Linked DNA regions of Homo sapiens: region 1 is linked to region 2. Evidence: fine-mapped expression QTL. Tissue or cell type: blood mononuclear cells. Region 2 holds a variant in brackets; the other region holds the start of a gene. All regions are shown on one strand. Distances are between the middles of the regions.

Region 1 (2,654 bases), 30 kb before region 2:
GAGGCCGAGGCAGGCGGATCACGAGGTCAGGAGTTCAAGACCATCCTGGCCAACACAGTGAAACCCTGTCTCTACTAAAAATACAAAAATTAGCTGGGCGTGGTGGCGCGTGCCTGTAATCCCAGCTACTCGGGAGACTGAGGCAGGAGAATTGCTTGAACCGGGACCTGGGAGGCAGAGGCTGCAGTGAGCCAAGATTGCGCCACTGCACTCCAGCCTGGGCTACAGAGCAAGACTCCGTCTCAAAAAAAAAAAGTTTTTTGTAGAGATAAGATCTTCCTATGTTGCCCAGGCTTCTACTTTCATTCTCCAACATAGCTTATCTGCCTATTTTTATTGCTTGTTGTCTGTCTCCCTCCAGGACAAGGATTTTGTCCTTCTCTTCAGAGGTATTCCCAGCACCTACAACAGTGCCTGGCACATAGTAGCTGCACGATACATATTAGCTACTATAGTAAAGTCTACCTGACTACCCTATTTAATAGAATATTCCCCATGCTCAATCTGAATTCCTGATTCCCTTTAACCAACTTTTTTTCCTTTTTTTTTTTTTTTGCAATAGTGCTTATTACCTTTAAGACACTCTGTAACATACTATATTTATTATTTATTGTTAGTCTTTCTCTCCACACCTAGATTGTAAGTCTTATGAAAGCAAGGGCTTTTGTAGGCTTTTTTTTTTTTTTTTTTTTTTTTTTGAGACAGAGCCTCACTCTTCACCCAGGCTGGAGTACAAGGGCACAATCTGGGCTTACTGCAACCTCCGCCTCCAGGGTTCAAGCGATTCTTCTGCCTCAGCCTCCCAGGTAGCTGGGACTACAGGCGTGCGCCACCGTGCCCGGCTAATTTTTGTATTTTTAGTAGTGACGGGGTTTCACCATATTGGCCAGGCTAGTCTCGAACTCCTGACCTCGTGATCCGTCCGCCTCGGCCTCCCAAAGTACTGGGATTACAGGAGTGATCCACCGCGCCCGGCTGTAGGGTTTCTTATTCAGGTATTACCAACACCTAGGGAGTTGCCTGGCATACAGTAGGTAATTAATGGAGTATTTGATGAGCGCATGATGCATGGTGTAGTGCCGATGGAAGTGGGGTCAGAAGGCCTCCTGCCGCTGCGGCAGAATTCCCGTGTGGCCTTCTCCCACCAGGGCCTCAGTTTCCCCTCGCAGTTCCGATTCTCTGGCCGGCGCTGGGGTGGAGCCGGCGGGGCCGTCGTGCCGCCCGTGGCCGCTGGGGACGCTGGTGCCCTCCCGCCCCGCCCACTTCCCCGCCGGTCCGCCCCTGGCTAGAGAAGCCGCAGCCCGCAGTGTCCGACCCAGTCGTCCCGCGCCGGAGCCGGCCCCGTAGCGTGCCATGGCCTGCTACATCTACCAGCTGCCCTCCTGGGTGCTGGACGACCTGTGCCGCAACATGGACGCGCTCAGCGAGTGGGACTGGATGGAGTTCGGTGAGTGCGGCCCGGGGAGGGGAGGGGACCAGGGCGACCGGAGCCCCCAGCGATCCCGCCTGGAGCGGCCGCCAAGCTCCCTCGGGCACCCGGGTTCAGCGGGTCCCGATCCGAGGGCGTGCGAGCTGAGCCTCCTGGACCGGGTCCGCCGCGGACCTCGGCCTGTCACCTGAAGGTGCCGCGTGGTCTCTGAGGACGTCTGTCGACGAGCAGGGGCCGCCGCCACTGCGCTCTGAGTCCAGAGAACGGTGGGTACGGGGGCCCTCCTGTCAGCGCTGCTGGCTCGGTGACGTCCCCAGGTGGCCTCTCATCCAGCCCACAACAGCCTGCAAAGTGCGAGCCTCGACCCTGTAGGGACCCACGGTGCTGTCACTTCTTGGGGGGGTGTGTGTGTGTGTGTGTGTGGTGTGTTTAGTTTTAGTGTATATTAGAAGGATCTATGATTTAACATATATATATATATTGAAACGGAGTTTCGCTGTTGTTGCCCAGGCTGGAGTGCAATGGCACGGTCTCGGCTCACTGCAACCTCCACCTCTGGGATTCAAGCGATTTTCCTGCCTCGGCCTCCCGAGTAGCTGGGATTACAGGCGCCCGCTACCACCCTGGCTAATTTTTTGTATTTTCAGTAGAGACCGGGTTTCACCATGTTGGCCAGACTGGTCTTGAACTATTTTTTTTTTTTTTTTTTTTTTTTTTTAAGACGGAGTCTCACTCTGTCGCCCAGGCTGGAGTGCAGTGGCGCGATCTAGGCTCGTTGCAAGCTCCGCCTCCCGGGTTCACGCCATTCTCCTGCCTCAGCCTTCTGAGTAGCTGGGACTACAGGCGCCCGCCACCACGCCCGGCTAACTTTGTATTCTTAGTAGAGACGGGGTTTCACCGTGTTAGCCAGGATGGTCTGGATCTCCTGACCTTGTGATCCGCCCACCCTGGGCCTCCCAAAGTGCTGGGATTACAGGCATGAGCCACCGCGCCCGGCCTCCGGAACTCTTGATCTCAGGCGATCCACCTGCTTCGGCCTCCCAAAGTGCTGGGATTACAGGCGTGAGCCACTGTGCCCAGCCTATTTATCATATTTGTGATTAAATGTACTTTACCATTATAGTTTTAAAATCAGATATTTACTTTTAGTGTACATTGTTTTGATCACAGTATTTATGACTATCAACCTGTTTTGAGATCAGATGTGTCCTAATAGATTCAGTGT
Region 2 (2,845 bases):
TGGTGGCGTGCTCCTGTGGTCTCAGCTACTTGGGAGGCTGAGGTGGGAGGATTGCTTGAACTTGGGAGGTAGAGGCTGCAGTGAGCTATGGTTGCACCAGTGCACTCTAGCCTGGGTCACAGAGCAAGACTCTGCCTCAAAAACAAAAACAAAAAATCCAGACTCTGTCTGAGAACTGCCGTGTCAACCTTCTGGTGCCTGTGGCCACCTAAGCTATAGATTAGCTGTTCCTTCCGTCACCTGCGTCCCCTTCCTATCCCTGGGGGTCCCAGCAGGGAGAACCCTGGGCTGCCCACCTCCAGTGTGTGACTGAGGCTGGCTGCCAATGGCGTGGGCACAGGCCCCCACCTCCCCTGCTGCTGGGCTCCTATGTTACTTTGCTCTCATGGCCACTGTACCTCTCGGGACTGTGCACCAAGTTGCTGCCCACCTAGAATCGGTTTCCATTAGAGTGTTTAAAATGTTAAAAATAGCCTTCCACCCTAAATGCTTCCTTCGGAGGCCCGAGTTGGGAATCAGAGGTTCTTTTCTATCTGCACCTTTCTGGCAGAACTGAAGGAGGGTGGCTGTTTGCACAGTGTTGTGGGCCCCTGCCCTGGGCCAGCCACTTCACATTTGTCATCATGGAGCCCTGGGACGGCCCTGGGAGGTGTGGGGTTATTATTCTGATTCCACAGGAGAGGCGCATGAAGCTCAGAGGGTTAGGAGGTCTGTGCCTGGGCGTGAAGCTGGAATCGCAGAGCTTGGGTCTGGCTCAAGCCAGAGCCGACGCTTCCCCACGCTTACTCTTGTGATCCTAGTTCTACTCTTTGATCACAGTCTGTGTTTTTGGATCTCATGATCCTGCAGAATCAACTTTATGTGTGGAATTCTCTTGAGAATTTAATCCTGGGAGGAAAGAGTGCTGTCTTGGAAGCCTGAGGCTGCCCCTGTCTATCTGTGATAAGAAGTCCGTGAGCAGCTCACTCCTGAGCCTTGGCCTTGGCAGATAGGAAGCTCAGTGCGAGAGTTAAAGCTTGTCACAGCCCTTTCTTGTAGGCATTTGGCCTCCTTTGCCTCATCCTGCCTTTGGTGTTCTATTTTTATTTCACTAGCTCTCTGGTGTGCCAGCCTGAATGAGTGGGCGTTGCGTCTTTCTAGCTAGCAGGGAGCAGGTTTGGAGGGATGAGGACAGAGGCCATTTTCTCCATCTTCATGTTTGGACAGTGGGACAGGCATGCATGGGCCTGCCTGTCCACCCAGCTCAGACCATGCCGGCAGCTCCAGGGTGGAGATGAGGGCGGTTCATGTTTATACGCACCATTTATTGCTTGCATTTTAAAGACATCTAAAAACTCAAAGCTTGAGAAGATGGGGGTTTCACAGGAAACCAGAACTTCTTGTTGGGGCTGACATGGGGCTCTGTTGGCTTACATCCGTGGCTGGTGTGACCTGGTGCCTCTTGTGTGGGAGGGTGGATGTTAGCCCCAAGTGTGCTGACAGGTCTGGTCACAGGTAGCCCTGCCGACACCGCCCCTCCCCATCTGTTCCTCACTCCTGCTCACTTCCAAATGCCCTGTGGTGCCAGGTGGGGCCACCGCATGTCACTGCAGAAGGAACAAGAAAAAGAAAGAGAAAAGCTGGACTCTCTTTAGGATGAAAACATAATGACATTTTTTATCTTCCCCAC[G/A]GGTGGAGCCCACAGAGGTCGGCCACAAATGGGTTGGTGGCCTTGATGTTCCTGCCAAATGTGTTTTGACAGAGAGGCAAAGATTTGTGCTGAACAAAACATTACCCTGAATAGGACACTGGACTGGGAGCAGTGGCTCAGGCCTGTAATCCCAGCACTTTGGGAGGACAAGGTGGGAGGATCACTGGGGCCTAGGAGTTTGAGCCCAGGCTGGGCAACATAGTGAGATGCTGTCTCTACACAAAATTAAAAATTAGCTGGGCGTGGTGTTGCCTGTAATCCCAGCGGCATGGGAGGCTAAGAGAGGAGGATAGCTTGAGCTCAGGAGTTTGAGGCTGCAGTGAGCTGTGATCACACCACTGCATAGCCTGGGTGACAGAGCAACACCCTGTCTCAAAAAAAAAAAAAAGGAACAGGACACTGAAGTTAAGTAAGGCTGTAAGTATCACCCTCATCCCCGTTTTACTGTGATGAGAACAATGAGGCTCAGCCAGGCAGGCCTCCGACAAGGAGAAGGTGCCTCATTTGCTGGGATCATGGGCGGTTCTGGGTGTAGGTGAGACCTTTAGGGAGCATTTTATACTGTTGCGGGCCTGGCCTCTGCAGGAGGTCACTGTTGGGAAGTGACTTCAGCGAGCCCAGCCGGCCCTGAGCCAGGGGAGCCACTGCTGCCCTTTTGACACAGATGTCACAAGGATGACAAGCCTTTCCAGGAGCATAAGCCCCACTTGAGGCAGTTTGAGGAGGGAGGGTGGAGGGAGAGAGGCAGTCTCTCCCTGCCAGAGAGGGGAGGCTGGGAAAGATGAGGACTGGGAGTGGCGGGGGGTAGCCTTCCAAGGGAGCACAGGCAGAGCTTTCACTTCTGTGCACCCTGGGAGCGACAGCTCTGTTCCAGACCCGTGCTTGAATCAGCACTCACCCCGACATTGTTCATTGTCATTCTGTACAAGGGACTGGTTTTCTGTTGTTGTTGTTTTTTGAGACAGAGTCTTGCTCTATTGCCCAGGCTGGAGTGCAGTGGCACAATCTTAGCACACTGCAGCCTCCGCCTCCCAGGTTCAAGCGATTCTCCTGCTTCAGCCTCCTGAGTAGCTGGGACTACAGGTGTGCACCACCACGCCTGGCTAATTTTTGTATTTTTAGTAGAGACGGGGTTTCGCCATGTTGGCCAGGCTG

The links. PIP is the estimated chance that this variant, and not a neighbour inherited with it, causes the effect.
Region 1: it holds the start of IRAK2, and the variant in region 2 is fine-mapped to the expression of IRAK2 in blood mononuclear cells (TOPMed, PIP above 0.99). The same link has a PIP of 0.9 or more in T cells, monocytes after LPS, monocytes after Pam3CSK4 and whole blood.

The regions. Positions count from the first base shown.
Region 1 is chr3:10,163,602-10,166,255 of GRCh38, forward strand. It overlaps IRAK2 (interleukin 1 receptor associated kinase 2), which reads left to right and starts at 1,318. Exons shown (of 13, transcript NM_001570.4): 1 at 1,318-1,447. The coding sequence starts at 1,354. RefSeq lists silencers at 1,153-1,282, 1,483-1,632.
Region 2 is chr3:10,193,485-10,196,329 of GRCh38, forward strand. All of the region lies in intron 2 of IRAK2 (interleukin 1 receptor associated kinase 2), which reads left to right. Among named protein-coding and RNA genes, the nearest start is that of IRAK2, 30 kb to the left of the region's middle. The variant G/A (reference allele first, on the strand shown) is at 1,670.